3 separate regions of the Homo sapiens genome follow, and all the other regions are linked to region 1. The links come from fine-mapping of genetic effects on gene expression. A gene starts in region 1. Each other region holds a variant in brackets. All regions are shown on one strand. Distances are between the middles of the regions.

Evidence for each region.
Region 2: its variant is fine-mapped to the expression of CNTROB in aorta (GTEx, PIP 0.92).
Region 3: its variant is fine-mapped to the expression of CNTROB in whole blood (GTEx, PIP 0.95).

The regions. Positions count from the first base shown.
Region 1 is chr17:7,927,539-7,935,711 of GRCh38, reverse strand. It overlaps CNTROB (centrobin, centriole duplication and spindle assembly protein), which reads right to left and starts at 3,506. Exons shown (of 19, transcript NM_053051.5): 1 at 2,363-3,506; 2 at 1,490-1,574; 3 at 1,166-1,247; 4 at 567-723. The coding sequence starts at 2,632. It overlaps KCNAB3 (potassium voltage-gated channel subfamily A regulatory beta subunit 3), which reads left to right and starts at 5,856. Exons shown (of 14, transcript NM_004732.4): 1 at 5,856-6,518; 2 at 7,886-7,929; 3 at 8,018-8,055. The coding sequence starts at 6,277. It overlaps TRAPPC1 (trafficking protein particle complex subunit 1), which reads left to right and starts at 3,766. Exons shown (of 4, transcript NM_021210.5): 1 at 3,766-3,981; 2 at 4,136-4,206; 3 at 4,563-4,701; 4 at 4,978-5,363. The coding sequence starts at 3,883. The coding sequence ends at 5,106. RefSeq lists a silencer at 2,458-2,635 and enhancers at 2,563-2,692, 2,823-3,112, 3,143-3,202, 3,423-3,472, 3,813-4,052.
Region 2 is chr17:7,305,073-7,313,244 of GRCh38, reverse strand. It overlaps EIF5A (eukaryotic translation initiation factor 5A), which reads right to left and starts at 5,617. Exons shown (of 6, transcript NM_001970.5): 1 at 5,493-5,617; 2 at 3,445-3,630; 3 at 2,123-2,227; 4 at 1,764-1,895; 5 at 1,594-1,667; 6 at 782-1,423. The coding sequence starts at 3,609. The coding sequence ends at 1,605. It overlaps GPS2 (G protein pathway suppressor 2), which reads left to right. Exons shown (of 11, transcript NM_004489.5): 9 at 1-33; 10 at 121-216; 11 at 406-584. The coding sequence ends at 489. RefSeq lists enhancers at 4,161-4,450, 5,681-6,491, 6,321-6,620, 6,492-7,303 and silencers at 4,921-5,040, 5,131-5,300, 5,661-5,770. The variant C/T (reference allele first, on the strand shown) is at 3,212.
Region 3 is chr17:7,888,892-7,897,064 of GRCh38, reverse strand. It overlaps CHD3 (chromodomain helicase DNA binding protein 3), which reads right to left. Exons shown (of 40, transcript NM_001005273.3): 1 at 7,965-8,173; 2 at 7,289-7,401; 3 at 6,324-6,494; 4 at 6,001-6,125; 5 at 3,496-3,779; 6 at 3,130-3,260; 7 at 2,800-2,950; 8 at 2,457-2,650; 9 at 1,915-2,148; 10 at 1,523-1,726. The coding sequence starts at 8,064. Among named protein-coding and RNA genes, the nearest start is that of CHD3, 4.2 kb to the right of the region's middle. RefSeq lists enhancers at 2,118-3,317, 7,275-7,844. The variant A/T (reference allele first, on the strand shown) is at 3,486.

The DNA of each region.
Region 1 (8,173 bases):
GGACCCTCAAATTTTAGAGAGGAGAAAAAAACAAGATATATCAGAACGATAAGCTACATGAAAGAAATAAGAAGGCGATCTGACTACTTGGAAAGGAGGTGGTGCCATATTAGATGGAATGGTCAAAAAAGCCCTCCTCAGAAAAACATTTAAGTCCCAGCTTTCAGGCTCTTAACCCTCAGCCCTTTTCTTTTTTAGTTTTTTTTTTTTGAGACGGAGTCTCGCTCTGTCGCCCAGGCTGGAGTGCAGCGGCATGATCTCGGCTCACTGCAAGCTCCGCCTCCCAGGTTCACGCCATTCTCCTGCCTCAGCCTCCCGAGTAGCTGGGACTACAGGCACCCACCACCATGCCCGGCTAATTTTTTCTATTTTTAGTAGAGACGGGTTTCACCGTGTTAGCCAGGATGGTCTCGATCTCCTGACCTCGTGATCCGCCTGCCTCAGCCTCCCAAAGTGCTGTGATTACAGGCGTGAGCCACCACGCCAGGCCCCCTCAGCCCTTTTCAACACTTGGGTCCCCTCTTTCTAATCTTTGCTGCTTTCGAAAGGAAGCGTTTGCATCTTACCTTGCGGCGGGTATGCTCTGAATCCAATGCATCTCTCAGCCCCTGAAAATCTGGGGGATTGAGTGGAGGCCCTGGCCGAAGGCTGGTGTAGCGGGGAAACAGCTCCTCCAGGGCTTGGGCTGAGCTAGATGGAGACAAGTCTTGCAGGGGCCGGGTGCTGAGCAAATCAGGTAGAGAATGTTAGGGCTGGGAAAGCTTTTGGAATCCACTTGTCCAACTGTGATATTCTACAAATGAGGAAACTGAGACCCAGAGAGGGCAAGAGACTTGTCCAAAGTCGTAAAGCTATATAACCATAGTGCTATAAATAACACACAGGTCTGTGATTCACTTAAAGGTTTCAGCAGAAACAAGCTAACTCTTTAGAGGGGAAGAATGACTGCAGGTTAAGAGAAAGCCAGGTACTAGGCAACAGATACCTGTGTTCCTGAAGGAGTAAAGGGGGCAGGAGACAGTAGAAAAAGATGAAAACTGAAAGGCAAGTGATAAGCCTCTTGGGTTCTTAAGAGGTACAAAAGCAATAAAGGGAGAAATAAGGAACAAAACACCTGGATTTCCAAGAAAGCAAACAAGCTAGGAGAACCACAAGGAGAACTCACTTGAGCAAGGTGGCTGTGCTATCACTGTCAAAGGAGTCCTCTTCCCGTCTCTCTGAGCCAGCGCCAGGAATGAGAGGATCCCCTGCAGGCAGCCAGAGGGACCCCAAAGCCAGAGTCAGGTAATGACAAAAACAGGGGCCACCTGAAGAGAAAAGGCCTTCCTTTCCAGTTCCCTCACTCCTTCACCCCCTCTCCCAAAGAACGGGAGACTTTTCTCCTGAAATCTCTTGCTCAGAGGTTTTCCTGCCTGCTTCCTCTGTCCACTTTCTCCCACCCCTTACATCTAGGTTCTCCTTCATAGTTCTAGGGAAGGGGCTTACTCACGATAGGCTGTATCACGTGAGGTTTGGAGCATGGTCTGGAGCTGACCCCGAACACTTTCCATCTCAAAGATATGCTTAGAACCATCCTGGAAAAAAGCCACATGGAAATCAGATGCAGTCTGTGTTATCTATCTCCTACCTATTGCCAGGGTAGAATTTTCACTCCAGCACTTTGGAAAACAAGAAAAACCAAACGGATCCAATAAGGGATGTCCTAAACTTGAATCAGAAATTCAAATACTACAGAAGCCAGAAAGAGAGTGTAAATAAAATAATCGAGGAGGTATAAGACAAGAGTTGCGGAGATTCTTGCCGATTCAAGAACAAATGTAAGGACTGTATGGCTTATGGCTATCATTTTCAAACTCTGGAAGACCTAACCAGTCTGCAAATTGACTCTGACACCTTTTCTATACAATACTAATAACTATCTTCTCTGTAACATGTTGTAGTTGACTAAGCTATGTCTTAATGATGTACATGCCAAAGTTGGAACCATACTATCAACATAGTGTTGAGCTGGAAGGATCGGAGCTGCTATCCTAAGTCCCTAGCTCCCTCTTGGGATCAAGAAACCTTACCCATTCCCAGTGCACGGGAAATAGCTCACCAACCTACCCCATAGGTTTGCTCTATCTACTCGGAGCAGAGATGTCTCTCACAAAAAAACACTGGGAAGTTTCATAATTTTCAAATTATGGTGTCCCAGGTCACTCCCTCCCTTATAAGCATGGCTGCCTATGCAGTTAAAAGGAATATGAAATCCAACAGGAAGAGTTCAAATCTCATCAAAGCTTTTTATTTTTACCAACCCCAATCCCAAGACTCTCTGGTGTCTAGTGCCACAGTGGTCTCCAAGACACACTTCCCTCACCTTTTTCTTCAAGTTCTTTTCCAATCCGACTGACAAGCTTCGACTCAATTCTTGGGCGAAGCCGTCTAACCCTTCATGAGGCGGGGAGGTGGAGGGTAAATACAGCTGGGCTCGGGCCGTGGCCTCCGCCTGCCGGCTGAGGCGCAAAGAAGCATAGAGCTGGGAGGTCACTTCAGACGACACTTGGTTGAGCCCAGGGGGTTCTGATGAATCACTCAGGAGATCCTCCGCCCCGAGGGGTGAACTGGGGCTGTCAGCTGATGTTGCCATGAATACAGGGAAGAGACAACCGGAGACAGCAAAGAGCTGGGAGGTTCTGCTTTAGCAAAGTCCAGGAGGAAAAGTTCACGGAGAAAGACTTGGGAGAAGGGAGGAAGACTCCACGCCAAGGATCCTTGGTGAATTAAGGATATCGAGGCTTTCTGGTTAGAGGAAAGGTTTCCACCAGTTCCAGGGGCCATGGGAGTGGGCAAAAGCATCCCTTTCCCCAGCTCCTGGGAACAGCGTTAAGAGGGTGCAGCGCAGAGCGGGTGCGGACAGAAGACCTACTGTGGGACAACAGCGCTGCTGAAGCTCCTCTTCCCGACTACGAGTGCTGGAAGCTGCAGATCAACTCCGGCACAGGCTATCCCCGGTCAACTGAGCTCTTAAGTTCTCACACCCAAAACGTCCCAACGGAAACGGACCCAAATCCACTAGGAGCCCAATTTCTGTCCCCCTGCCCTACTAGTCCCTCAATTGGTTCCAGTCTCAAGAGAGGGCGGAACCTCACGCTCCCCCATCCCTTCACCCGTTCTACCCAGGGTCAGCTCCAGCTCCCTTGTACTTTCCCTTCGACCCCTCCTGGCAAGAAAGCCATAGCGAGCTTCCTTGTTCCCTAGAATCTCTCCCTCCCGACCACCCCAAAAGAAACCTTGTGAACCCTCAGTCACGCCCTAAGTCGTCCCTAAGAAGCACGCCGCCCTCAAGCCTAGCCCGAGATCCTCTGCCCCGACGACCACCTGGTTCCGCCTACTCTCCACCCTTCCAGTCCTCAGTCCCCAATTTGCCAAAGTGGGGGGCAAGCGATTGACCTCCTCCCCTGAGATCCCCCTCTCACGCCTCCCCCTACGCTCAAAACCGTTGGCAGCCTCCCGCCCACTGTCCACGGCTCCGCCTCTCTCGCCTCGATGACGTCACCCGCCCGCGAGACCACGCTCGCAGACACTCACATCACTTCTGTATCCCGAGCGCCTGGCCGCGCGTGCGCGGCTCCGGTGGCCACAGATTGGCTGAGGGAGGGAGGCGGAGTCTGACAAGCAGCACTGGAGCGGAGTTAATGCCCAGCCGCGGCCGAGCGAGAACCCCCCTAAGGGGCGGAGCTCCGTGGAAACCGGAAGTAACTCTTGACGGGCACTCGGAGCAGTTCCGGTGAGTCCGTGGGTGGGGTCCCCACCTGGTTGGAAGGCTGTGGGTCCGGGAACCCGAGCCCAAGGAGTGGGGGCGGCCCCGGAGCGAGGCTCACACTCCCTGCCCTGCAGATGACTGTCCACAACCTGTACCTGTTTGACCGGAATGGAGTGTGTCTGCACTACAGCGAATGGCACCGCAAGAAGCAAGCAGGGATTCCCAAGGAGGAGGTGACGAGAGGGCCCCGGTGCAGCCCGGGCGACCTCTCATCTCCAAACACCTATAGTCCCAACCCAGCCCCTCCTCTCCAAACCCCAGCTCGTTCCCACCCCCCACCCCATCTCCCGCATCAACCGAGAGCTAACTCTGCCCCTCTCCCTCCAGGAGTATAAGCTGATGTACGGGATGCTCTTCTCTATCCGCTCGTTTGTCAGCAAGATGTCCCCGCTAGACATGTACGCGGAGTCAGAGAAGATGTTGGGAGGAGGGCTAGCCTTGGGAATTTGGGGATGGGGGAAACTTTCTGAAGTGGAAGGAGCATTGGCCTCCAGAGGGGGGAAAGGGTACTTAAGAGAGGCTGAGTCCGGAGCGAGAGTGCTGGAGCTGGCAGGAGTGGGGGTGGGGAGGGTCTGAAAGTAGAGAAGTTGGTGGGGGCTAAATTGAGGGGTGACGATGGGCGATGTCTTTACTCAACCAGGCTTCTACAAAGGATATGTTTAGATAAAGAGGGAGTCGATGTTTGCGGGGATCAGAAGTGTCTCTTTGGGAGAGATTCTGCTCCCATTCTTTAACACCCTCCTCATCTCTGCAGGAAGGATGGCTTCCTGGCCTTCCAAACTAGCCGTTACAAACTCCATTACTACGAGACGCCCACTGGGATCAAAGTTGTCATGAATACTGACTTGGGCGTGGGACCCATCCGAGATGTGCTGCACCACATCTACAGTGCGGTCAGTGCCAGCCCCAGGGACCCATCCCCCAGAGCTCTTCAGAACCCCAAGACTCCCTCATCTCCCCTGCCCCAATCCTACTATATGTTTGCTCAACTCAAGAGTTTTCTCAGGGGCCCTTAGGTTCTTAACTCCCACCACCACTTTCTCCTCAGAGAGGGCTTGCCTTCCAGCCCTTATTCCTTGTGCATTCACACACCCCTGAGGTTATACAAGGTTTGGGGCTAAAAACCAGAAGTATCCAAAGCCTGGCTCTAACATCTTCCCTTTCCATAGCTGTATGTGGAGCTGGTGGTGAAGAATCCCCTGTGCCCGCTGGGCCAAACTGTGCAAAGTGAGCTCTTTCGCTCCCGACTGGACTCCTATGTTCGCTCTCTGCCCTTCTTCTCCGCCCGGGCTGGCTGAAGCAACCTACCTCAAGTCTCAGGAGAATTCATGTCTGCCTGGGGCCCTTCCGAACCTGTGCCAACTAAGGGCCCCCACTGTAAGCCCCCGCACCCCCACCCCCTGCCCAGAGCAACAGCCTAAAGGCCTGCCCTGATGCTCTCCTCCTACCAGAGTGAAGCCCACAGAGTCCCTCCACCTCCACACCAGGCCCTCTCTCCAGTTTTATCCCCTGCCTAATGCTGCGAGAAGCACAGAATAAACTTTTTGTCACTCTCTGCGGCCTGAGCGTGTTGGTTTGAGGGCCCTCTCAGTCCTGCCCCACGCATGAAGGTGGAAAGTAGGGCAGCCACACCCCCTGGAGGGCCACGAAGTGGCTTTGCGGATGGGTTTCTCAACCGTGGGAATATTGATGCTTTGAGCTGGATAATTCTTTATTGTGGGGACCGTCCTGTGCTTTGTAGGATTTTAGCATCCCTGGCCACCACCCACTAGATGCTGATAGCACAGGCATGAAATCAAAAATATCTCCAAACCTTGCCGAAAGTACGCTGGGAGATACATTCCCTCCCGATTGAGAATCACTGGGCCGGGGGAAGCCTGACAGCCCTTGGGTCCCAGAGGGTGCAGGAGCCATCCTCCCCAATTCCGCTCAGAAAATATTCAAGCTGCAGAGCCTTCAGCAGGCGGGGCTTATGCAGATGAGCGGCAGGTTTGGCTGAGAGGAGGGCGGCTCTATGCAGATGAGGAGGCGGTGCCTGCATGCTGATGAGCTGGGCCCGCTGCCGACGCGGCTGGGAGCCCAGCGGGTCCCGCAGCGGTTCGCGCTGAAGTGGCATCTCTCTCCCGCCCCGCTTCCCCCTGGGTCCTTATCCTCCGAGACCTTTACCTCATCCTCGACCTTTACCCTCATCCATTTCCCCCTCCTAATCCTTGCTCCTGTGTCCCCCGTAACTGAATATCTCCACTCCTGGCGCCCCCCACGTTTCTTCCCTCCCGCCGCAAACCTCGCGACCTCCAGCAGCCCGCCCCCGCGGGCCCGATCCTGCCTGGCGGCTCCCGCCGCAGCCTCCTCAGCCTTCCCGCTCTGCCGGGGTTCGCCCCACTACGCCCCCGGTCGTCAGCCCTCGGGCTTCCCTGCTCCCCCCTCCCGTCCCCTCGGAGCCCCCTCCCCCGCCTCGGCCAGCCAGCATGCAGGTGTCTATCGCGTGTACCGAGCAGAACCTTCGCAGCCGGAGCAGTGAGGACCGTCTGTGTGGACCCCGGCCGGGCCCCGGGGGCGGTAATGGTGGGCCGGCCGGCGGGGGGCACGGGAATCCTCCGGGGGGTGGAGGGTCTGGCCCCAAGGCCCGAGCTGCACTGGTTCCCCGACCCCCAGCGCCCGCTGGGGCCCTCCGAGAGAGCACCGGCCGAGGCACTGGCATGAAATACAGGTATGGGGGTGGCCGGGCAGCCCACCCCTTCCGCTTTCCTTTCGGGACCCCTGAGACTGCTTGAGATGGCCGCCAAGACCCCTTCAAACTTCACTAAGTAGGTCTCCCTTCTTTCCATCTCTTCTTTCTGTCTCTGGCACTCCCTCACTTTGTCCCTCTCTTGGTTTCTGTCGATACCCCTGACTACGAGAATCAAGTTTACCAAGGTTGACTGGGTCCTGTCAGACCCAGGGGATGCCCCTGAGCTTCCCTCCTTACCCCTGGGAAGGTCAGGGATGCATGGATCTCCACGCTACACGGATCTCCAGGCTATGCCTCCTCCAGTGGAGTGTCCTTGGGTCCGTGTCCTGGGGAGTGGAGGGAGGGAATCAGCTTCTCACTCTGGCCTGCTCGGGGTGCCTGACCCAGATACTGCCCCTGCCTGCCCCAAAGGCTAGGTCTTCTGCGACCTTTCTTGGGTGCAAGGGGAGTGGGGCCGGTGGGAAGGATGGACCACATTTTTCATCTCCATGCTGAGGGACAGGGTCTGGGTAGACTGAAATGTAACTGACTTTATCTCAGAGGACTGCCAGACCAGAAGCTCAGAACCTGAAGTAGGGGGTAGAGGAGGGGCTCCTGCTTGGGAGTGAGCTGAGGTCACTGATCTGACCTGCTTTGTCACCTGAGGAATCTGATCCCCTCTATATGGTGGCCCTGATTGGAAAGCTGAGCTGACACCTGGGTTGGGGGCTTTGGGAGGATGAGGGGGCTCACTGGTTCAGAGACAGTCTTCACAAGTCAATAGGAACAGAGGGAGTGGAGAGGGAGAACTAGGCTTTTCTGTCTTACTCTCCCCCCTCCCCCCAGGTCCTCAATCTGCCTTTCCTCCAGGCCCATCTGCCTAGCCTAGCCAGGGACCCCTGTCTGTCTGAATGCCTGAACTTGACTTGGTTTACCTCTTCCAACCTGCCATCTACCATTTGGCACAGCACTCTGCCTGAGGGCCTGGTCTCACAAACTCACCACAATCAAACAAAATTCCTCCCAGCCCCTCACTGCACACAACCCACAGATGACTCAAACACAGACAAGACCCCAGAAGAAGGACAAACCAGACTGCACGTCTTCAATGTGATAAGAGGGAATGGAGACTCTGGACAGTGGCTCCAGAGGAACAGTCACATATGGTTCACTTGTCCTTTTGAGAAAATTCCTAGGACCTCTGCTCTGGAGATAGCACTTGCCCAATCTTATAGGCCCACTGGGTCTAATTTCTTTGGACTGAGACACCTGAGGGCTTCTCAGTCTGGAAGGAGAGGAGCTGGGGGCTGATAATCTAAGTCCATAATGGAGGCTCCACCCCTTCCCGCTGCTTCTGTATCTTGCAGGAACCTAGGGAAGTCTGGTCTTCGGGTATCCTGTCTTGGCCTAGGTGAGTCAGAATAGGGATTAAGGAAAGGAGGGCATTCTTTCATGGTCTGCCCCCTGCAGTTCTCATGTGCCTGGCTTCTCTCTTGCAGGTACCTGGGTCACATTTGGTTCTCAGATCTCAGATGAGGTATAAGTTATCGGACCTAGAATCAGGGTGGTGGGGGTGAGGGAACTTGAAAAAAGGGAAGTGAACCTGGATAGGGGTTTGGACAACAAGCACAGGGAATGAGGGATCTGAGGCTGGA
Region 2 (8,172 bases), 620 kb after region 1:
CATGCTAACCAGCAGACTGGCTTCTCCGACTCAGTGAGTATGGCACCTTGGGAGGTCAGGGTTAGGGATATGTTAAGGGGAGCTTCAGTATGCCTCAGGCCCTGACTCTGTTCTCTGCAGTCCTCTCTGCGCCCCATGCACCCCCAGGCTCTGCATCCAGCCCCTGGACTCCTTGCTTCCCCCCAGCTCCCTGTGCAGATGCAGCCAGCAGGAAAGGTAAGAATGGTAATAGAATTTACCTGTCAGAATCCCTACACTAGGGATCCGGAAAAGCAGGATTAGGTAGGACAGGTGGCCCACATCATCTGGTTTTTCCTTCCTCTTTGGGGGTGGTTATCAGTAGGGTATTAAGTGGAAGGGAGAGTATGCCCAGTGACAAAGCCCTCTTTTCATCACCACCACCAGTCGGGCTTTGCAGCTACCAGCCAACCTGGCCCTCGGCTCCCCTTCATCCAACACAGCCAGAACCCGCGATTCTACCACAAGTGACCATCAGATTATATCTTCAACACCACACCCCCCACCCCATCGTGGGTGAGGGTATCCCCTGTGTGTCCCAGGCCAATAAAATCTACCTGCCACTGCCCCTGGCTGCTGCTGTTTGTGTTGCCTCCCACCCAACTGTCTGGAATAGGTCAAGGTTGCTTGGAGGGTGGGGGGATGGCTGGCAGGTCCACAGCAAGTCAAAGTGATAGACAGCGGGTTCCAGTGAACTCAGTGGCAGAGTTCAGTCTTTTTGTGGCTTCCAAATACACCCATTTAATTCAAATAAGCAGCTGAGTTGGGGGCTTCATATTAAACTTGTAGTTTTATTCAGGTTTGATTTTAACAAATGTGTCGGGGAGAGAGCCCGCAGGGAAGGGTAAAGCCCATGGGGGCAGGGCCCTCCCAGATGCCTGAGGAGGGGGCAGGTCCCCTCCCCTCTCCTCCTCTTCCCTCCCCATCTAAAGGGGTTTGGGGAGAGACACAGGCAGGCGAGGGGGCTGGTCCCCAGTCTGTTGGGGTGGTGCTCAGGGTAAAGGGCTATAGGCAACAGGGGACCAGACCAGGGATGAGTGGGGAGGGCACAAGGACCATTTGCCAGAATCCACCGCTTTCTGATTCCAGATTGAATTAAAAAAAAAAAAAAAAAAAAGACTAAACCACAAGCAGCACCCACCCCCTTCTCCCCCACCAGGGCTGTAGTGTGAGGGGAGAAGAGGAGGGCAGCTTCACCAAGGCCACAGCTTCGCTCGCTCCTGGCCAAGGGAGCTAGGTGAAGGGCAGGGGCTCCCCGACAGATTGAGGGGGTGGGGAAAACCAAAATAAAACGTCAAATAAATTGTGTAGGAGGAGTCCAGCTTAGGACCGGGCCAGAGCCAGGCCAGGCTCGGGGAGGGGGCCTCTGCAGGTTCAGAGGATCACTGCTGCCACCACCGCCACCCTAGGTAGGAGAGAGAAATTAGTAAGACAGGATAATACCTTCAACAGGAAGGATAGGGAGGACAGAGCCAGGCTAGGGGCAGAAAGTAAGCCTGAAACAATTAAGACTACAGCAGCTCTGCTGAGGACAACAAAATGTGAAGGGGACAGTGAGGGATTTGTCACACTCACCTGGGAGCCAGTTATTTTGCCATGGCCTTGATTGCAACAGCTGCCTCCTCTGTCATGGCAGACAGCACCGTGATCTGGAGAAGCAAGAGGGATAGCCAAGAGATGTCTGAGCTCAGGAAGAAACGTACAGAACAAAGCTGAGCACAGAAGCAGGGAGGGAGGCACCATACCAGGATCTCTTCTCCACAGTCGTACTTCTGCTCAATCTCCTTGCCAAGGTCTCCCTCAGGGAGACGAAGGTCCTCTCGTACCTCCCCGCTGTCCTGGAGCAGTGATAGGTACCCATCCTGGATGCCAATCAGCTGGGGGCAGATAGGGAAGGAGGCTGAAGGTAGTAGGCCCAGGGAGGCTGACATGACAGTAAAGGCTCTGATAGACAAACTGGACTGATAGCAAACTAATACCAAACACCCTCTCCTGCCATTTCCCTCCTCTCTCCCAGCACAAGCTCTCCTGGTCAGTCCCTATCCCCCAACCCCTCCCTCCACCATAAACCGCTAACCCATCCTCATCCAGACCATCTACATACCTGGAAGTCATTCCTTTTGATGTTGGGGACATCCATATTATGAGTTGACGGGCAGATATCTTCATATTTCTTCCCAGTAAAGATGTCAATACCAACCAGATGGACCTGTATGTATGCATCACAAAGAGAAACCCAACCAAACTCTAAAACGGAGGAAATAAAGGCTCAAATTGACCTTGCCTGATGAGGGAAGTCAGAATTACATTGTTGGGGCAAAGACTGGAGTGTTGGAATTGAACCAGTCAACTCAAGAAACAGTAAAGCCTCTTAAAGAAAAAAAACAGAGGCTAAAAAACCACCGTTGAGATTGGGGTTGACAGCACAATAGAAAACTGCATGGCAGGCTTGGAGAAGACAGTTACCTTGATAAAAGATAAGATGCTAAGAGTCTAGGGGAGTGGGAGGAGTCTGAGTAAAAGTTTCGAAGAGTTTTCCGGACACCAGGAGAAGGAGCTGAGAAACTGGGGAATAAGGAAGGTAGAAGGGAAAGGATAAGAAACTAAGAAATGTGAAAGAGCTGAAGAAAAGGACTTGCAGGGAGATCAGAAATAACTATGTAGCTAGAAAATAAGGAAGCCAGAAGAGCACAGAGAGGGATCCAGACACTAGAGAATAATCCAAGATCAATGTCAAGTCAAAAGATGGAAAAACTGATTAAGGAAAAACACCACAAGAAATTCAACAAGAACGAATCAGGTTGAAATTCTAAAGAGACAGGAAAAGTCTGAGGTGATGAGGGAAGTGCTAGCAAGAATGTTAAAACCCATGAAAGCATGGAGGCTCAAGGAACCCAAGGAGAGTGGGATGGGGCAGGTAGGGGCAGTTTGATCCTGCGTCAGAGTTCCAAAGGGAAAGCTAGAACTGGGGAACGAAGCAGCAAGGTGACCTGAAAGCTCAGAATTGACGCAGGAGTCCCTCCAGGGGAAGGCGTAGAATTGGAGAAACCCTGGGCAACGTGATGGAAGCAACCACTTAACAACGGCTCAAGGGAAGAAAGAAAAAGTGAAAACCAAGAATAAGGAAGGAGCAACTGAATAGCTAGAGCATAAAGGCCTATGAATTGAAGAGATTGGCACAAAGCTGGAGAAA[C/T]GGAGGGACTGCCAGAGAATGATGCGGGGACAGAAGGGTAACCACAGAAGAGGCTGAAGACTGGGGAGCAGGTGTAGTTGTCTGAATGGGTATGAAGGCTGAGCGCTAAACAAAAACAATCAGACAGTAAAAGCAGAGTTAAAGGAAAGTCAGCACTGTTGGCAGCTTGCTGCTGGGAGCGCCAAAGATACTGGAGGCATGGGGAAGGCAAGATGCGGAGGTGAAATTCTAACCTTGGCGTGGCCGTGCTTGCCAGTCTTCGAAGTAGACATCTCGACGATCTTACATGGCCGGCCTTTGAGCACCACAAAGCCATTCTTACGTAATGCTGAGCACTGCATTGGGAAGGTGGCTGAGGCCCCTGCATCTCCTGTCTCGAAGTCCAAGTCATCTGCCATTTTAAGAGGCTTCGATTCCAACTAGAGCCAAGAAGAGAACTGAAGTGAATAAGCATGGAGGTCAACAGGACCTCCAATCTATCCCATTTCTCTCCAGAAACATTTTCCCAACTCTTTATTCCATTACCCACCTAAAATAAAGTCAAAGTTCCTGAACTTAAAATACTGACTGGGCTCAAATATACTCAAGAACTGGTGTGTGTATGGGAGGGTGGAATAGCTGGTTTCTCCCCCATAAATCAAAGCTAAAGTGGTGGCTTGGGAAAGGAAGGCTCTAGGGAGCTGGAATGTCAAATCTCAGAGATGAGAAAAGGCCTACTTCCTGGGAGTGGGGAGGACTCAGGTGTTACTTGCCACTGAAACCAACCACCCCTCTTCCCCACATATAGCCAGGGCTATAATTAGGTGAGCAGCTATGATCCAGCAAAAGGGCAGGGCTAATTGGGGGGGGGGAGGGTGGAGACCGGAGGACAAGGCCCCACCCATCTGTTACACTGCCCCCCCCCATCCACACACAAACCAGTCACTGCTACAGGAAACCACAAGGCCTCTTTGGGGGATTCCCGCCTCGCCAACATGCACTTGCAACAAGCCAAGGGGGAGAAAGCAAAGTTGTTTCCGAAATGATCCCCCTGCCAAACACCTCGATCTTGGTTCCCAAAGAGAACCCAGGAACCCAGCCTCTCCTGGAAGGCCCTCCCACTTTTCCCAGGATGCATCTGTCCTGTCGGCTTTTCAGGCCGGGCCAGTACAGTCAGTAGAAAGTGGGAGAGGTGGGGGGTGGTGAATGACAATAAAATGAAAGCAAAAGGTTGGTAGTAGTGAGTAGTAGAAAATCATACTAGGCTAGTAGAGTTAAGGACTTCGAAACCGTGGAACTCCCAAACCAGTTACAACAGGAAGACAGTGACAAGGTGAAGAACGCCTATCACGGTGGGAAACTCATCTGCCTGAGGCTTTTAGGCGCTGTCCACCCAGGCCGACAGAAAAGTTGGGCTCCTGTCCAAACGCCCTGTTTCCCCATTTCTCCGGCCTCCCAGCTCGAAGGGGTGCCACTTACACCTGGCTGACCGCCACACTTCACAGGAGGGTTTTTCAGGAAAGCTCCTGGGGCCCTTGAGGTTGGGAAGCGCTAACATATGCCTGCAGCAGGCCCTCCGGGGTGATTAGGACCCGAGCCTCCGGCTTCCACTCCTCAAAATCTCAGGCCCCCTCGGAACCCCCGCGAGGACTAGCTCCCCGCGCTAGGGGCTGCCGGCTCCTGCCGACCATGTGGCCGTTCCGGGCTTCCGGTGGCCGGGACCTGGGGGGAGGGGTCCCCGCGCTGCCATGCGGCCCCGGTCCACGCTTGGCCATGCGGCCTGCGACCCCGAGGGCAGCCTCCCGTGGGGGGCACTTCCGGTGCCGCGGCCGCCCCCTCCTCAGAGACTGCGCCAGGCCGGAGCCACGCCGCCTCCCCTCCCCCCGGCCGTCCGCCAACCCCCCCCATCATGCCCTCTCACCGAATAGCCCCCTCCCCCACCTCACGTGGCCGCGCTGAGCCGGGTCCTCAACGGCCCAGGTACCCTTGCCCCGGTGGGCCGATCTGGCCCCTGGCCCTCGCCCCGGCGTGGCCGCCTGGCGGCCTCTCCCGCGTGGCTGCCTCGCGGCTCGCCGTCCCCCGCCCTGCGTCGCTCCAACGTCACCGGGCCAACCCCAACCGTCACCCCGCGCGCCAACCGGGGCGCGCGCCCGCGCCTCTCCTCACCTCGCGCCGCTCTCTGGCCGAACCCGTGCGGCGGCGGCCGCCGCTCCCCTCTGCCCCCTCCCCGACCCCCGCGCAGTTCCATCTTCTCCCGGGCCCAAGCCAAGGTACCGCGCACACGCGCCCTGCCCGCTCTCACCTCGCGCGAACGCACTGACTCGACCCCGTCCGCTCGCCGCGAGCCCAACCGCTGCCTCCGAGCCCGCTGCCGCCGCCGCCGCCGCCTCTACCGCCGCCGCCGCTGCTGCACACGGGTCTTAGTACGCAGGCGCCGACTCCCCACTGACCAACCAAGCAGCCCTATGACAGCCGCGCAAGCGTGCTATCTATCTCCTCCGCCCTCCACCCCCGCACTGCGCAAGCGCACACACCCTACCCATCTCCACCCTCCCTCCCACCGACCCGTCCAATGACGCGCATACGTGACCCCGCCCCTCACAAACCCTGAGCGTTTTCAACTAATCTGCAACGCGCAGGCGCACCCGGTTTTTTAATCTCTTCAACCTCATCTTCCCTCCCCTTGATAGACCGCTCGTCCTACCGGGCAGTCCTTGCGCCTGCGCAATAAGGAGCCCTGCACTCCACACCCTCTAAAGGAAACGCCTGGGTCTCAGAACGCATGCGTGTTCGGAATCCTAAACAACCCCTTCCACCTCAGACGCCGTCAGTACGCCAGGCGTTGAAAAGACCACGCCGCTAGATCACTTGTCTCGTCTAGAACGCATGCGTCTCAGGATACGCCCCACCTCGGCTTTAACTGGACTTAAACGACTCACACGTTTCAGAAAACTTGCTCTGTGGGGTGGGCGCCTTGTCTTGGAATCAGTCCCCCCAGTTCCACACATGCGCGGGAGATGTCTTTCCGCCCCACTCTTCTAGCGCGCTAGTGTGGTCGGGTTCCCACCCATCTCGGCTTCACTTCTCTAAATCGAATGCCTATGCTCTGCCATAGAGTTCACCCGAGAAGATAGAGCGGTCCTGCGGCGGACACCATCTTCTTTAAACCCTCAGTCCGTATTGGTCTCTATGGCATCCATAGAGGCCATTCGGCTCTGAGGTCCTCAGTAAAGAAACTTAGATGGTATTACTGTGTTTTCCCCAACTGTGCTCTGCGGTTCCCCAAAGTATTGTCTACGAGGTCCCTTAGAAAAAATTGTCTATAAAAATGAGTGGTGGGCCGGGCGCGGTGGCTGACACCTGTAATCTCAGCACTCTGGGAGGCCGAGGCGGGCGGATCACCTGAGGTCGGGAGTTCGAGACCAGCCTGACCAACATGGAGAAACCCCGTCTCTACTAAAAATACAAAATTAGCCGGGCGTGGCGGCGCATGCCTGTAATCCCAGCTACTCGGGAGGCTGGGACAGGAGAATCGCTTCTCCTGTGGAGGTTGCCGTGAGCCGAGATTGCGCCATTGCACTCCAGCCTGGGTAACAAGAGCGAAACTCAAGTCTCAAAAACATAAATAAATAATACATAAATAAAATAAAATAGTGGTAGGCCGGGAGCGGTGGCTCACGCCTGTAATCCCAGCACTTTGGGAGGCCGAGGCGGGCGGATCACAAGGTCAGGAGTTCAAGACCAGCCTGGCCAACGTAGTGAAACCCCCGTCTCTACTGAAAATACAAAAAAATTAGCCGGGCGTGGAGGTGGGCGCCTGTACCAGCTACTCGGGAGGCAGAGGCAGGAGAATCGCTTGAACCCAGGAGGCGGAGGTTGCAGTTAGCCGACATCGCACCACTGCACTCCAGCCTAGGAGACACAGCGAGAGACTCTGTCTCAAAAAAAAAAAAAAAAAAAAAAAAGTGGTATGTTAGATTACATTGACATTGTCTTAATCATAGGAGACCATGAAGCTGGAGACGAGCTATCTTCCCAACTTTATTTTCTTTGCCCTCCCTCTCTCCGCCCCCCATTTCGCTTTTCCTGAAACTTCGTAGTCTTCTTCCAATTCCTGGGTTTCTTGCACTACCTTCATGGCTGCCTTGTTGGATAACAAGACTGAAACAAGCGGCCAGGCGCAGTGGCTCACACCTGTAATCCCAGCACTTTGGGAGGCCAAGGCGAGCAGATCACTTGGGTCAGGAGTTCCAGACCAACCTGGCCAACATGGTGAAACCCCGTCCCCACTAAAAATACAAAAATTAGCCGTGCCGTGGTGGTGCGTGCCTGTAATCCCAGCTACTCGGGAGGCTGAGGCAGGAGAATCGCTTGAACCCAGAATGTGGAGATTGCAGTGAGCCGAGATCTCGCCAATGCACTCCAGCCTGCACGACAGAGCAATACGCCATCTCAAAAAAAAAAAAAAAAAAAAAAAGACAGAAACAAGCGACCAAAGATCTTGGGATCTCATCCTTCTTTTGTGTCTTTAAGGAATTACTTCAGATAGCTCTGCCTTAATTTTCTTCCCATAAAATGAGAATAATAATGATGCCTGAACTTCCCAATTTTTCAGGACGTTGCAAAAATTCTGCAACATGGGTTGGGCATAGTGGCTCATACCTGTAGTCTTAGCTTTTTGGGAGGTCAAGGTGGGAGGCTCCCGTGAGGCTAGCAGTTACAGACCAGACTGGGCAACATAACAACGGCCCATCTCTACAAATAAAAAATTAAAAAAACAAAAACAAGAAAAGCTCAGCTCAGTGGCTGGTGCCTGTAGACCTAGCTACTCTTTCTTGGGAGGCTGAGGTGGAGGGATAGCTTGAGTCTAGGAGTTCGAGGCTTCATTGAGCTATAATCCCCACCACTGCACTTGAGCCTGGGCAACAGAGAACCTGTTTCTTAAAAAAGAAAAAAAAAAAGTCTTGTGACACGATACATGT
Region 3 (8,173 bases), 39 kb after region 1:
AAGGGAAAGAGATAGTCCTGACACTCACAGAGGACAACAAGGAACCGGGAAGAGGCCGGCAGGAGGAATGGGACAGGGAAAGGGAGCTATGAAAAAGGATGGATTGGCCCAGGCACGGTGGCTCATGCCTGTAATCCCAGTGCTTTAGGAGGCTCAGGCGGGTGGATCACCTGAGGTCAGGAGTTCAAGACCAGCCTGGCCAACATGGCGAAACCCCGTCTCTACTAAAAATACAGAAATTAGCCAGGTGTGGTGGCGCACGCCTGTAATCCCAGATACTCAGGAGGCTGAGGCAGGAGAATCGCTTGAATGCATGAGGCGGAGGTTGCAGCGAGCCAAGATCACACCACTGCACTCCAGCCGGGGCAATAAGAGAATAACAGGCGCGTCCCAGCACTTTGGGAGGCAGAGGCAGGTGGATCACCTGAGGTTGGGAGTTCGAGACCAGCCTGATCAACATGGAGAAACCCCGTCTCTACTAAAAATACAAAATTAGCCAAGCGTGGTGGCGCATGCCTGTAATCCCAGCTACTTGAGTGGCTGAGGCAGGAGAATCGCTTGAACCCAGGAGGCAGAGGTTGCAGTAAGCCAAGATCGTGCCACTGCACTCCAGCCTAGGCAACAAGAGCGAAACTCCATCTAAAAAAAAAAAAAAATAGAAAAAAAAAGAAAAAGGATGGATTAGAGATAAATGAGTCAAAGCCAAGACGGAGAATAAATAAAATGAAACAGATGCAACAGTTTCAGAAGACAAGGCCTGGGTGGGGCTCTTACAAGCAAGAGATAGGGAATGGGATTAGAAACATTGAGAATTTTTTTTTTTTTTTTTTTTTTTTTGAGATAGAGTGTCGCTCTGTCGCCCAGGCTGAAGTGCAGGGACACGATCTTGGCTCACTGCAAGCTCCGCCTCCCGGGTTCACGCCATTCTCCTGTCTCAGCCTCCTGAGTAGCTGGGACTACAGGTGCCTGCCACCACGCCCAGCTAATTTTTTTGTATTTTTAGTAGAGATGGGGTTTCACCATGTTAGCCAGGATAGTCTCGATCTCCTGACCTCAGGTGATCCGCCCACCTCGGCCTCCCAAAGTACTGGGATTACAGGCGTGAGCCACCACACCCAGCCGAGAATTTTTTTTTAAACAGAGATGGGGTTTCACTATGTTGCCCAGGCTGGTCTCAAGCAATCCTCCTGCCTTGGCCTCCCAAAGTGCTAGGATTATAGGTGTGAGCCACCATGCCCAGCCAGGAATATTATAAAACATGGAAAAAGACAGATAAGGAAGGACATGAAGTTAGGAAAGGCTATGCTATATCTGAGGGAAGGAAGCTAACGGAGACTGAGAGAAAGAGGACTGTAGACCAAAAGAACCACATATGGAAACTAAGCAAGTAGGGTATGAAGGCCACAGGCCTGAAATGAGAGAAAACAAAGAGTATGGGAACCCAACAAACAGAGGAGTAAGAGAGGGAGAGGATGGCAGGAAATGAGGTCATGGGGGAGAGGGAAAGAAAAGGTCCTAGTACCTGAAGCTCCTTGGCCCAGGAGCAGTGCCAGTAGGATAGTCCTACCCACTTGACAAAGAACTCTCGCTCTGATCTGCCTTGAAGAGGACGGGGGGGTGGGACATCTGGATTTCCATCTGCCTGTTGAGGGGCTGGCACTGCTACAGGTGGCTCCCCCCACCGCCAATGTAGGATCTTCTGCACTCGACCCTTCAGCACGGGGCACTTTGGGATGGACACGTACAAGGAGGAGGAAAGAAAGAGGCAGAAAGAACCCATTGTTAGATGAGAAGATAGGGGTCCCACAAGGGTGGGGGAGTGCAGAGAAATGAAAAGCTGGACATGTGGGCCCCAGGGATGGGGGAAGGGATCAGGCCTGACAGTAAATACAGAGGGGAGATGTTTCCACTCACTGTGCATCGGGGACACAGCCATTCACCATTGGGAATGTCAGGCAGGGGAGGGTTTAGACAATGAATGTGGTAGGAGGAGATGCACGCGTCACAGCACAGGAGCTCCCCGCCGTCCTTGCATACGCGGCAGTACTCCATGTGATCATCCTCCTCCTCCTTCTCCCCTTCTTCCTCTCCCTCCTCTTCGTATTCTTCTTCTTCCTCCTTGGCCTCCCACTGGACCCCCTCCTTCTCCTAGGGGGCCAAGGATAGACACACAGACAGATGGAAGAAATTAAGGAATGAAACTGGAAGATACAGGCAAAGACAGGACACCTGAATCCTAGAAGTGCAGAGAAGACTGGTGGGAACTAAGGAAAAGGACACTCCAGTTTCAGAAATGTTGATTGTGGGAGAAAGGAATACATTAGGATCCTAGACACTCGGACATCTGTTACTAAGAAGTCCAGCCATCTGGGGGCAGGAAGAGGGTAAGTGAAACCAAGGGGGAAAGAGATGGGTGGGTTCCTCAGGGCCATCAGATGCTGGCATTAGGTACTCACACAGTGAGGGCAGCTCCATTTGCCCTCTGGAGCCCGGTCAAGCTCAGGATCAAGGCAGACGAGGTGGTAGGCACGAGGGCAGGTGTCACACAGAATAATTTCCCCACCCTGCTGGCACACCTCACAGTAATCCTGGTGATCCGTCTCGTAGCCATCAACCTCCTCCTCCCCGGCCACTGCAGGACAGCCCAGGACTGTCATATACCCCGGTGGAGGGATAAGGAAGCAGGGCAGGGGGAGATGGAGAGAGAGAGGGAGAAGGGTTGAAGAGAGAAGTCAAAATTGAAAATAAGAATGAGAGGACGGCCCACTGACAGGATCACACACAGTCAACACTCCTTACCCTTCTTCTTCTTCCTTCCTGGCCGGCCTCTCTTTAGTTTCTTGGTGCGGACAGGGCCATCAGGCCGGCCTGAGGCACTGTGGACACTGCCACTGTCCAGGTCTGATTCCTCAGCCTCTGGTTCAGGACCTTCGTCGCTCTGAAAAACATACTGCCCATAGCCCCGTGGCCGTCAGTGAGGCAGACTTCATTCTACGCCCTCCCCAGGCCTTTGGCTTCCTGTTCCGCCATCCCTCACGGATCCCTGTCTCTGGATCCTTGGCCCTCACGGATCCCTGTCTCTGGATCCTTGGCCCCCAGGTGTTTAGTAGACAGGGACGGGTCACTCACCGAGCCTCCTTTCTTCCTCTTGCCACCCAGAAGCCCTAGTTTTATTTTGAGTGGTGCCATTTTCTTTCCCCGAAGCTTCTTGCGTCCATCAGGCACTCGGGGGCTCTTACTCCGCCTCTTATGGCCTGGACCTGAATGAGGAGTCGGGGTGAGAAGAGGAAAAAGGAGAGGTCATGACATCCTGGAATTATGGAGGTCACAGGGGCCTCTGGATTCCTCTGTGGGCTGTGGTTTCACTAAGCCCCACTTCCTGGAAAGCATCTCTCCTCCAGCAATCAGGGCTGGGAAGGCGAGAGTTCCAGACTCTAATGTGAAGACATGCAGTTTGGAAGGTGAGATGACAGTTGTTGGAAGAG[A/T]GTTCCCTACCTTTGCCCTCTTTGGTTTTGGCTCTTCGGATGGGTGGGGGCTGGATATCAGCAGCAGGGGGTGGTGGAAGGGCGGGGGGTCCGGAGGGTGCTATGGGGGTGGCCGACGAGACAGCAGCTGACACCTGCTCAGCTACAGCTGCTGCTGCTGCTGCCGCTGCCGCCGCCACAGCAGCTGCTGACCCCTTGAAGGGGTTGTTGGCACTGAACTCTCTCCATTTGGCCCCAAGGATGGTCATCATCTTAGACATTGGGATCTTAGGATTCTTCTTAGCAATTAGGGGCCTGTAAATATAGAAGCAGAAAACTCGGACCCTTCACAGATGGTCTGGGAACACTGCCATCTCCCCTCATCAATTAAATCTATGTACATGCTAGGATTCCTGGGTGGTGAGAATATGTCCTATTAGGAAAAACAGCCATTTAAAAAAATAAATAAAAAGAAGTTTAAAAAAAGCGGGGAAAGAACAGGTTTAAAAAAGCATTAAAAAAGAAATACAGGCCAGGCACGGTGGCTCATGCCTGTAATTCCAGGCTGAAGCAGGAGGATTGCTTGAGCCCAGGGCTATGAGATAAGCCTGGGCAACAAAGTGAGATCCTGTCTCTACAAAAAATTAAAATAAAAAAAAATAATTAGCTGGGTGTGGCAGCACCTGAGGCTGAGGCAGGAGGGTGGCTTGAGCCCAGGAGTTGGAGGATATAGTGAGCTATGATCACACCACTGCAGTGCAGCCTGGGTGACAGAATGAGACCCTGTCTTTAAAAAAAGGGAAATAGGCTGGGCGCAGTGGCTCACGCCTGTAATCCCAGTACTTTGGGAGGCCAAGGTGGGAGGATCACGAGGTCAAGAGATGGAGACCATCCTGGCCAACATGGCGAAACCCCGTCTCTACTAAAAATACAAAAATTAGCTGGGTGTAGTGGTGCGCACCTGTAGTCTCAGCTACTCGGGAGGCTGAGGCAGAAAAATTGCTTGAACCTGGGAGGCAGAGGTTGCAGTGAGCCAAGATTGCGCCACTACACTCCAGCCTGGCGACAGAGTGAGATTCCATCTCAAAAAAAAAAAAAAAAAAAGGGGAAATAAAAAACAGCGAAATAAAACTTAAAAGCATAAAAGGTTAAAATAAAATCAACAAAAATGCTTTACTTTTGTATACTACTTTACAGTTCATAAAACCCTTTCACATACATTCCACCTTATCTTGTCCTCACAATAATACTCTTGAGTTGCTATGATTCTCTGCATTTTACTAGTAAGTTCCATGGGCCCTGAAGATGGGCTTCCGTAGGACGGAGTGTGAAAGAGTCAGACCATGCTGGTTCTGCTCTGGGGTGGGGTGCTCAACTCTTGTGCGGACACGGGTGATCCATGGTGCTGAGAAAAGCCCCAAGTTCAGCAGTAAGGTAGGTGAGACAACGTTACTAATGACAGTCACCAGTTACTGAATGCTCCCTAGGAGCCAGGCACTGACGGTACTGTGCTTTCCATTCATTATCCCACCAAACCCACACAGATTCCTATGAGGTATATATTATTATTCCCCGTTTATAGAAGAGGAAATTGAGGATTGAAGAAGTTCAGTCACTTGCCCAAAATGTAACCAGATGTGAACCTCAGCAGCTGCCTCCAGAGCACTGAACTGATATGTTAAAGTGCCTTCTCCCCAAAACAAAATACATCGGCACTATTTTTTCTTTTTTTTTTTTTGAGACGGAGTTTCGCTTGTTGCCCAGGCTAGAGCATAGCAGTGGTGTGATCTCGGCTCACTACAACCTTTGCCTCCCGGGTTCAAGCGATTCTCCTGCCTTAGCCTCCCGAGTAGCTGGGATTACAGGCATGTGCCACCACGCCCAGCTAATTTTTTTGTATTTAGTAGAGACGGGGTTTCACCATGTTGGATGGGCTGGTCCTGAACTCCTGACCTCAGGCGATCCACCTGCCTTGGCCTCCCAAAGTGCTTGGATTACAGGCATGAGCCACTGCACCTGGCCCATCTCTGCTATTTTCTACTCTACTATTCTCTACTTTTCTTCAGGAGCCACTGAAGCTCAGGTCCCACTGCCAGCAGTGGACCCTCCATTATTACCAGGGCCTAAGGAAGGGGCACAGGACCTGCTAAGTGAGCTAAGGAAGTTCAGGAACACTGATGGTATCTCTCAGGTCCAGTCTAGAGAGAAGTCACAGAGCAGAAGATGGAGCTGTTGGGGCAGGGGAGGGCTCACTATATTCTGTCCTCACTTTATTCTGTTGCTAAAGAGTTCTCTAACCCAGCACTGGAATCATGATGGCCCCTCCACCCCTCGCCCCTCAGTGAAGAGTTCTCAACTGGGGTTCTTGGATCCTTATGAGTCTAGGAGTTCCCTGAAATGACGTGTAGAATTTGGTGTGTATACACCGTGAATTCTCTGGAGAGCAGTTTCATAGCTTTCATCAGATTCCAAGGGGTCCAGGACCTCCCTCAAATTAAAAGTGTCAATTAGCGAGGATTCCCCAGTCTTACCGCACCTCATGAACTGGCTGAAGGCTTTGTAGTTGGTGAGCGTGTGGTAATCCTCCTCAGAGAACACATGCTCCACATCCTCCAGGCCCCAGGTCAGAAGCAGAGTTGCTGATGACTTCTGTTCCACTTGCTGCGGGAGAGGGGCTTTGGTGAAGTAGGTGCTCCTCCAGCCCCTATTCCAGGCCGCACACAGGCCTGTCTACCTACCCACTAGCTTCCCTGGGCTTTCTTGCTTCTTGCCCCATTCTCCAGTCCAGTCTCCATTCCTCCCCTCCTCATGCCCGTCTTTAATGCAGATTTCTCACTCTCATTCCCTAATTCTACTCACCTTTTGCCCCCCATCTCCCTCCCCCTTTTTCCGCCGCTTTGTCTTCTTCTCCTTTTTTTCTCGGTGCTTCCTTCTTCGTTTCCGACCCGGTCCGGTTCCATATTCACTGCCCCCACTCTCTGACTTCTCCCGGTACTCATCTCGCTCAGAACCAAATTCCTCCTCACTGTCCTAAGAGAAAGAAATAAAAATAACATTTATTCATCCCTACCATTGCCAGAAACTGTTCTCAGCACATACCATATCTTACCTCTTTTAATCTTCACAACAATCCTGTGATAGTAACTAATTTTTTATCTCCTTTTTTTTTTTGGAGATGGAGTCTTGCTCTGTCACCCATGCTGGAGTGCACTGACGTGATCTCGGCTCACTGCAACCTCCACCTCCCGGGTTCAAGCGATTCTCCTGCCTCAGCCTCCTGTGTAGCTGGGATTACAGACGTACCACCGCGCCCGGCTGATTTTTGTATTTTTAGTAGAGACGGAGTTTCACCACATTGGCCAGGCTTGTCGCGAACTCCTGACCTCAAATGATCTACCCGGCTCAGCCTCCCAAAGTGCTGGGATTACAGGCGTGAGCCACTGCAACCGGCCTTTATCTACTTTTTACAGATGAGGAAACTAAGGCACAGAGAGCCAAATAAACGGCCTGGTATCCTAGACAGAGGAATGCTGGACTCTTGAATTCATACAGTCTTCCAGAGCTTGTGCTTTCAACTGCTTCTCTTTGCTGCTGAGGACACACTGACAACGAGGCTCTTCACTAGGTTGCAGTGAATGAAGTTAGGGTCCCAGATCCCTGAGATACAGGCCAACAGTGGCAGGGAAGTGGGGGGCCCGGGGGATCAAGCCTCCCTGGCTTCAGAACCCCACCCCCACACCAGTAATCAGGACCAGAGAAAATGTAGGTCTCTGAGAATGGGTCTCTTGAGCCTTGCCACAGAGTTAGGAATTCTTGACACTTACACGCTTCTTGCGTTTTCGGGGTTTTCCTGGCTTGTTCTCCTTCTGCTTCTTGGGTCCTCGTTTTCTCTTCTTCACACCCAATGCTGACGGCAGCAGCCGAATGTCATCCTTATCTTTGAAGCAAAAAGCATCAGAAAACCTAAGCCTCTAGGTTTCCAGCCTCTGAGGCCCCTCAACTTGCCCCTTCCCCACCTCGGCAGTTCCCACTCTCTAGGAAGCATTAACTCCTCCAAGCCCTGCCTCCCTTCACTGGATGCAAACAGAAAGTGTTTCGAGTACTCTGGGATGCTCTGGTTCTGAATGGGAGGTCAGGGGTCAGAAGAGAAGAGCAGCCAAACCACTCCCCTCCCTCCCCTCCTACTAACAAGAGACCAGGCTCCAGGCCATGGGCTCTGACTGTGGCAGGTCCTTTCAGTCACCGCCAGGGCTCCTCCTGCCTTCCCCCTCACTTCGCCAGCTGGCATCCTGCCCAGGAACTGGGGAAGCCATGCCCAGCTGCTGGCCTGGCCTGACCCCAGCACTTGGAGTGGGGAGACACAAGCTGGCAGCTCCCTAAGCCAGATGCTGGGGAGGGAGAGCCAAAGGTGGACACCTGGGTTCTCACACTAACACCCTGGGGCCCTGACATCCTTTTGCCAAGAGGGAGGCCTCTATTTACATTTCCTCGGATAATTACCAGGCATCCTGTCACCCCAACACAGTCCTGGAGGAAAAGAAATCCTCAGCTGGTCATTTTTACTTCTTGCCCACAGGATCACAGTGTCTGCCGCCTTCATCACACAGGAGAAAGTCTCCACAATTACCTAAATATTCCTCCTCCCAAGTAGCCTAAAACCTACCTTCAATTCTATTCCCATCTCCCTGCTCCCTTTGGGAACTAGGGGG